2 linked regions of the Homo sapiens genome follow. The protein of the gene in region 1 interacts with the protein of each later gene in a pairwise test. Each region holds a gene or a part of one and is shown in the gene's direction. Other genes may lie near its edges.

Region 1 (3,500 bases):
TGCTGGGATTACAAGCGTGAGCCACCGCGCCCGGCCAATTTTTGTATTTTTAGTAGAGATGGGGTTTCATCATGTTGGCCTGGCTAGTTTCTTTCTTTTCTTTTCTTTTCTTTTTTTGAGACAGAGTCTCCCTCTGTCACCAGGCTGGAGGCGTGATCTCGGCTCACTGCAACCTCCACCTCCCAGGTTCAAGCGATTTTCCTGCCTCAGCCTCTCGTGTAGCTGGGACTACAGGTGCATGCCACCATGCCCAGCTAATTTTTTGAATTTTTAGTAGAGACAGGGTTTCACCATGTTGGCCAGGATGGTCTCAATCTCTTGACCTTGTGATCTGCCCGCCTCGGCCTCCCAAAGTGCTGGGATTACAGGCGTGAGCCACCGCACCTGGCCAACACACTTTTACTTATTCATTTAAACATGTTTACAGGCATCTTCTTGGTGCCAGGCCCTGTACCAGGCTCTGGGCACACAGCAGTGACCACGAAGCTAGCAATCCAGTGTTTGGGCGTGGCTTCAGCTTCCTTCCAAGCTAAGGAAGGGGTTAGGGCTTTTGCCATGGGGGATTGGGCAGCCACTGAAGGCTCCCCAATGGGCAAAGTGAGCAAAGTGGTCAGGTCTGCGTGTGAAAAGGCGCGAGGAAGGGTGTTTGGGCCAATGGGCCCCAGTGCTAGGGGACCTGTGAGATTGCAACACAGGTAGGAACTGAGTCATCCTGCACAGGCAGTTTCCAGTCCCATTTCTGTACAGACAAGGACCCTGAAATTCAGGGAGGAAGAGTAATTTGCTCAGAGACCCATTATGAGGATGGGGGGTGGGGAGAACACTGCTGGGTAGACATGGGGTCAGGCGTTGTGCAAGACAGGCCCAGGGTAAGGGGGTTCTGGCGAATGTGAGAGGGAAGGTGAGAGACCATCTCTGGGGTCCACTCTGTGGGGTGTGGCTGAGATGCTGTCTAGCCGGGCGACCTGCCTACTTTCCAGCTGTGTGGCTTGGGGCAAGTTACTTAACCTCTCTGAGTCTCAGTTTTCTCACTTGTAAAACTGGAATAAAAATTGTACCTGCCTTGGCTGGGCACAGTGGCTCACACCTGTAATCCCAGCACTTCGGGAGGCTGAGGTGGGCGGATGACCGGAGGTCAGGAGTTCGAGACCAGCCTGGCCAACATGGCAAAACCCCAACTCTACTAAAAACACAAAATTAGTCGGGTGTGGTGGCACGCACCTGTAATCCCAGCTACTCGGGAGGCTGAGGTAGGAGAATTGCTTGAACCCAGGAGGCAGAGGTTGCAGTGAGCCAAGATCGCGCCACTGCAGTCCAGTCTGGGTGACAGAGCAAGACTCCGTCTCAAAAAAAAAAAAAAAAAAAAAAAAATTGTACCTGCCTCACAGGATCCTGTAAGATAATGAGCGTAGGGAGCTTGGGGCAATGCCTGGCACCTAGAATGGACCTGTTCCATGGGAGGGAATGGCAGCAGGTAGGCAGTGAAGGTGAGGGTAGGGCTGGCGGGCTGGAAGAGCCGGCTCCAAGGACTGAGAGGGTGGGGGAAGCTAGGGACAAAGGGGGAATTTTGTGAGATTTCCTGGTTGGAGCAGGAGAAGGTGGCTGGCCAGGGGGAGGTCAGGGAACCAGGGGGTCTCAGGTTGTCCACTGGGTGGGGAAGCCTCCCAGGCTTGGGGGAGGGGGTTCTAGGAGGGCTGTGGCCAGGGCCCGGAGGAGGGCAGGGCAGGGGCTGGGCGGGAGGTTCTATTCACCGTGCCTCCTACCCCAGTACTTGCGCTAGTGGCTGTCAGCCAGCCAGGCAGCAGTGCCTCATCGGACTTGTAGTTTTTCAGGGAGAGGTGGTGGCCAAGAGTGTCAGGAGGTGCAGTGCCCCTTGGGCAAGGCCTAGGTGCAGTTATTAAGCCAGGAAGGTAGTTTTCAGCAGCAAGGCTTGTAGGCTTGGTTTCCAAGGCAGGATTTGGCTGGCAGCTGGTCATGGGCAGCTGTCCCCGAAGCTTCATCCTGCCAGGCCCCCCATGTGGCAGAATGGTTTGGTCTCCCTCCCTCTGGGGCACACAGGCCAGAATGGGCCTCCCGTCTCCTTCCAAAGTGGTGCAGCCCAACCGCCAAAGGCCACAGGTCACCTAGCTGGCAGCATCCTGGCGCCCCCTGCCCCCCCAGCCCCCACTGTCAGCTCCTGACTTCCTGTCCCTCCAGCCCTCCGTGGCCTTTTCCCTGTAGCCAAGGTCTCTCACCCGACCCACCTCTGCTGAGCCTCTCTAGCTGTCTCGCTGTCACATGGCTGGGGTGGCAGCCCACCGGGCGCATCCACCTTTCACTGCGCACATGAAGAACCGTGGGCTCAGAGAGGTGACGGCACTTGCCCAACATGTGTCACCTACCGACTCCCAGCCCAGGGGCCTTCCTCATGCCCTGCCAGGCTTACAACACCCAGCTCTTTCATGCCCAATTTCAAGGGCCCCAGGCTTTGCTCCCATTTTATAGATGGGGAAGTAGAGCCCAAAGGCTTAATGATACGTGCCCAGGATGGCAGGTCAAGGACAGAAAGGCAGCTCTCTTGACTCTCAGGCCTCTGTCTCCGGCTGTCTCCTGCCCCCTTGCCCTGAGCCTGCTCTGCTTGCCCTCAGGAGCTGGAGAAAGCTGTGGTGCGGGGCAAGGAGTTGGGGGACCGGCTGGAGCATTTGCAGCGTGAGCTGGAGCAGGCGGCTCTCGAGCGCCAGGAATTTCTGCGAGAAAAGGAAAGCCAGCACCAGAGGTGGGGACAGGGCTGAGGGGAAGAATGAGGGAGGCAGGGGTGTGGTGGGGCGAGGGTGGGGTGGGGCTGGGTGCTAAGGATTCTCCTGGCAGGTACCAGGGCTTGGAGCAGCGGCTGGAAGCTGAGCTGCAGGCGGCGGCGACCAGCAAGGAGGAGGCGCTGATGGAGCTCAAGACCAGGGCCCTGCAGCTGGAAGAGGAGCTGTTCCAGGTGATGCCTGCCCGCCTGGGAGCTGGGGGCCATGCCACCCTGCCCTCCATCCCATGAGCAGATGCCAGGGTCATCTGTCCTCCTAGTCTTGCCTCTGGATTCTTGGCTAGCTACTTGCCTCACTCCCCATGTGGGGCCTGTTGGAGAGAGCACTGTGCTGGGAGTCAGGTGGCCGTGTTGACTTATCTGGGGTCTCATTTTCCCCATTCTGCACATGGACAGAACTTCTGCTGTGGATGACTGCTCCGCCTGTCTCACCCGAGGTCCTCCACTGCCTAGGGAGCTCAGTGTTTGGCATCAAGGAAGCCAGCGATGGTTTCTGATACCCAGGCTGTGTGCGGGCTCCACACGGAGGGTGGGGTGGTGGTGGGGCCCAATCCCAGGCTGCCATCCTCAGGGAGCTCACAGGACAGTCAGGATAGAGGCAAGAAAACAGGTGACAATAACTAGGTGCCAGGGGCTGTGAGGAGGCCATGCAGGGGCTTGGGAGGGTGGTACCCAGCAAGATACCCAGCAGGTGCATGCGAGTCTATCA
Region 2 (3,500 bases), on another chromosome or scaffold:
ATCAGGGAGAGCTTATCCTTCTATCTTTATAGAGTCTGCTTACCCCAGAATAGGTTTTTACATTCATTTTTCAGTAATTTGTAACAATTGGTATTTTTAATTTTTTTTTTAAGTTTTACAAGTTCTATTTAAAGTTAGAAATTCTCACATTCCTTAGGGTGATCTTTGGCAAGCAGCTCTTCGATTATAGGAGGAAGTTAGTCATTCTAACCACATAAGAAAGTGGAGAGTACTTGCTTGCTTACCTGAATATTACAGTAAGAAAAAAACACCATCTATTTACATGCCTCTAACATGTAACACTATTTTCACTGGATTTATAATTTCTTTTTTTTTTCCTCCTACTGACCTTTCATTCACTTGTTTTGGGAACTTTTTCTGAGAAGAACGTTTAGAGATAGCATTTAAAGTGGATTTCAAGATACATCAGATTTTAAGACATTGTAATAAAAATTAGAGACTTCAGAGCCCAACGGTTCACTGCTAGTCTAGGTCTGCAAACTAATGAGAAAGCACCTCTGCAAACACATAGTTTCAACTTTAACTTGCACATGAATGGGGAGCGTCTCCAGCAGTGTGGCCGTATCCATATTGCTCATTTTGTCCGAGAAATTATTTTGTCCAAGGGTATCAGACTGAGGTCCGTTCAAAGACATTATATACATACACAGAGACACAGAAGAGAAATCTGAGATGCGAGTGGGAATTGCTGATATATTTGTTTCCAAAGCAAACTCCATGAATGAAATGATTCAATAATTTGGAGGCATTTGAAAGTCATTAAAATGGCCATTTGGAATTTTCAGTTGTTGCCTCCCTCAATTTTTTACGTTTCCCCTGTAGAAAAAGACATCCTCTGGGCACCCTCAAATATTCTGGGATGCTAAAGTCATGCTAAAATTATTTACAATTTTAGAAATTAAAATTCAGGAGGCACAGCAAGATAATCCGATTATTAATATATCAGTATTATTTAGCTATGCATAACAACAGGAAAACGCACAATGCAAAAGTTTTAGAGATAATGAGCTTAGAGAAATTACATGGGGGGAAGAAATACCTGGATCATATTTGAAAGCATTTGTCTTGAATTCTGCTCATCTAAATGAGAGCTCTCTTTCTACCTGTGTCATTTAAAAAACAATTTCAATATCCTCCTACCTGCTACCCCAGCCTGAAGCAGGGACTAATGAAACTCTCTCTGGACACACAGATGTAAGACACTATATTACACAACACTTTTTAAAAAATTGTTTCAGAAAACCAAATGTGGGCATGCAAACCAAAAGAAAAACCTCAAGGATCTTCGTAAGATAGCTAGCTCAGGGTTCAAGATCAAGAGAACTTTGTTGCGGCAGGATAAGAAGACAACAGCATTGCGTTTTAGCTAAACATCTCTTCTTGGCAAATGAGAAGCGGTGAAGCAGGGAAGATTTTTTTAAGGAGCTTTTTAGCTCTTTTGCATCTCTCTCCAAAGACTAATTTAATTGAAAAGCTGTAGTGTCCATTTATGATTAAGGAAAGGCCTCATGTTTCCACAACACTGCTAGACACTAAGGTGGGTTTGAAGAAAAAAAAAAAAAGGCCAGCATTCTGCAGTTTCTGTTAGTATAAAAATTAAGATCACTGGTCTTAATTACTTGAGTGCTTTCAGAACTGAAGGAATACTCTAAAATCACCCCTGAGCTTTCTTCTTAAAGCCACATCTAAGCCATTTCTATGGAAATTATATAGTTTAGATATTAAGGTGGGTAGAATACAGTTATTGCTTTTAATGAAAATAGTTACGAAGGGCAGAATGAGATAAAAACAGAGTTGGCAGCAGCCATTCTATTTGTAATGAATTTGAAAGAAACTTCCGTAATGCTTTACTGGATCATGAAAAACCCATGAAACCTTGTGACATGGGAGATACAAAAATGAGACAGAGGGTCAAGGTCTTCTATAGGGGAAAAATGGCTTGTGTAAGTGAGAGCAGTGGCATATAAATATCTCTATATAAACTGCACAGGGCTTACTTTAAATCACTTCAATTTATCAGATCCTTGGAATTTTTTTTATGTATTTAGGAGCCTCTCTTTTATACCCCAGAGAGATATGAATAGCTTCTGGGCCAAGATGATGCTGTAGAGAAGAGTCAAATCTATTCTATGTGCACGGTGCCATTTGGTACAGAAGAAATGCCAAAATGAAAAGCCATAAATGCGTTTTATATCAGAATTGCCTTTGGCTATTTTCCTTTATTAGAAAGTTGGGTACACTGCTGAGTGCTTCTTCTTGTTTTCCCCCTTGGGATTAGATTTGAGACTGTGGATGGAACAGCGGAGTAAGGGCAAGTGACTTGGGTTCTGGTTGCAGCCTTGCCCCACGCTAGTTATTTAGCCCCGGGCAAGCTCTAGAGATAAACCTTACTCTCCGGGTAAGAATGTGAGTTTTTGGAGTCAGACTGATTGAAGTTCAAGTCTCTAGGTCTAATTCTTATTCGGCCGCGTAAACTTGGGCAGGCTGCTCAAATCTCTGCCCTCCACTTTCTAATCTATAAAATGGGGGCAATCATATGTTCCAGGTGTGTGGAAAGGATTGTGTCAGAGGAGGGCTGAGAAAGTGTGCTGAAACTGTTAGGCACCACAGGGATACGAGGGAATAGTGTGTCTTTACCCTGAATAACCAGACTATGGAAAATTTATATTAACTGGGAAACAAGCAACTTACCAGTTATCACAGAACAAGGGGTCCAGGGCTTGAAAGAAACCAGATATGGATGGATTTTGATTTGTAAGCCTGGAAACACAATGGCTAAGCAGTGTTTTAGCCTCTTCTCCTGAGGCAGACTCATTCTGGGCTGTTTGGAGTCCAGCACCCGCTCAAAAAAGAGTTTCTTTCCCAAGAAATAGAATTTATAGCACCACCAACAACGGTAACAATGGTAACAATGATATCTGCCACTAAACAAGTGCTTTTTACATACCACGTGCTTTATATGTTTACATTTATTCGTTTACACGGCAGTTATTTCTTGAGTTCCTACTATGTGTCAGATGCTGTTCTACTACCTGGACCTGGAGGTGAATAGGATGGGGATGATCCCTGGGGATCTTGCCCTCCAATTGGGGGAAGCTAGAGAATATACAAAGAAATTTATAAAGGAAAAGATAATTTCAGTATAGAAAAAAAGCTTCATGATGGCAATAGCTTTATAAAAGCAAAATTATGAGAGCAGGAGTTGGGACAACAGAGATGTAGATGGTCAGGGGAGACCTCTCAGAGGAGGGGACATCTGGGCTAAGTCCTGTTCCTTATAACTTTCAAGTATAATCCCTGTTTTACTGATGAGAATCTGAGTAAGTTGCAGGATAACTCATTCAAGTTCGTGCGGTAGCCAAGCTGAGTTTTAAACTCAGCTCTTCCTGCTTCCAAAGTCCATGCATTTAATTTATTATGATCGTTTATCTAGAATAGTCATAGCGAGTTGCCAGGAAGGACCCAAGGAAGAACCCTCA

The links. The genes of interacting proteins can lie anywhere in the genome.
Region 2: the proteins of CCDC88B (region 1) and TSHZ2 interact in binary tests that used the Homo sapiens proteins (3 or more experiments, as listed by UniProt).

Annotation. Positions count from the first base shown.
Region 1 is NC_000011.10:64,346,704-64,350,203, forward strand, and holds part of CCDC88B (coiled-coil domain-containing protein 88B), read left to right. Parts: intron 1-2,627; coding exon 2,628-2,755; intron 2,756-2,847; coding exon 2,848-2,965; intron 2,966-3,500. UniProt on the Homo sapiens protein: Acts as a positive regulator of T-cell maturation and inflammatory function.
Region 2 is NC_000020.11:52,978,858-52,982,357, forward strand, and holds part of TSHZ2 (teashirt homolog 2), read left to right. Parts: intron 1-3,500. UniProt on the Homo sapiens protein: Probable transcriptional regulator involved in developmental processes. May act as a transcriptional repressor.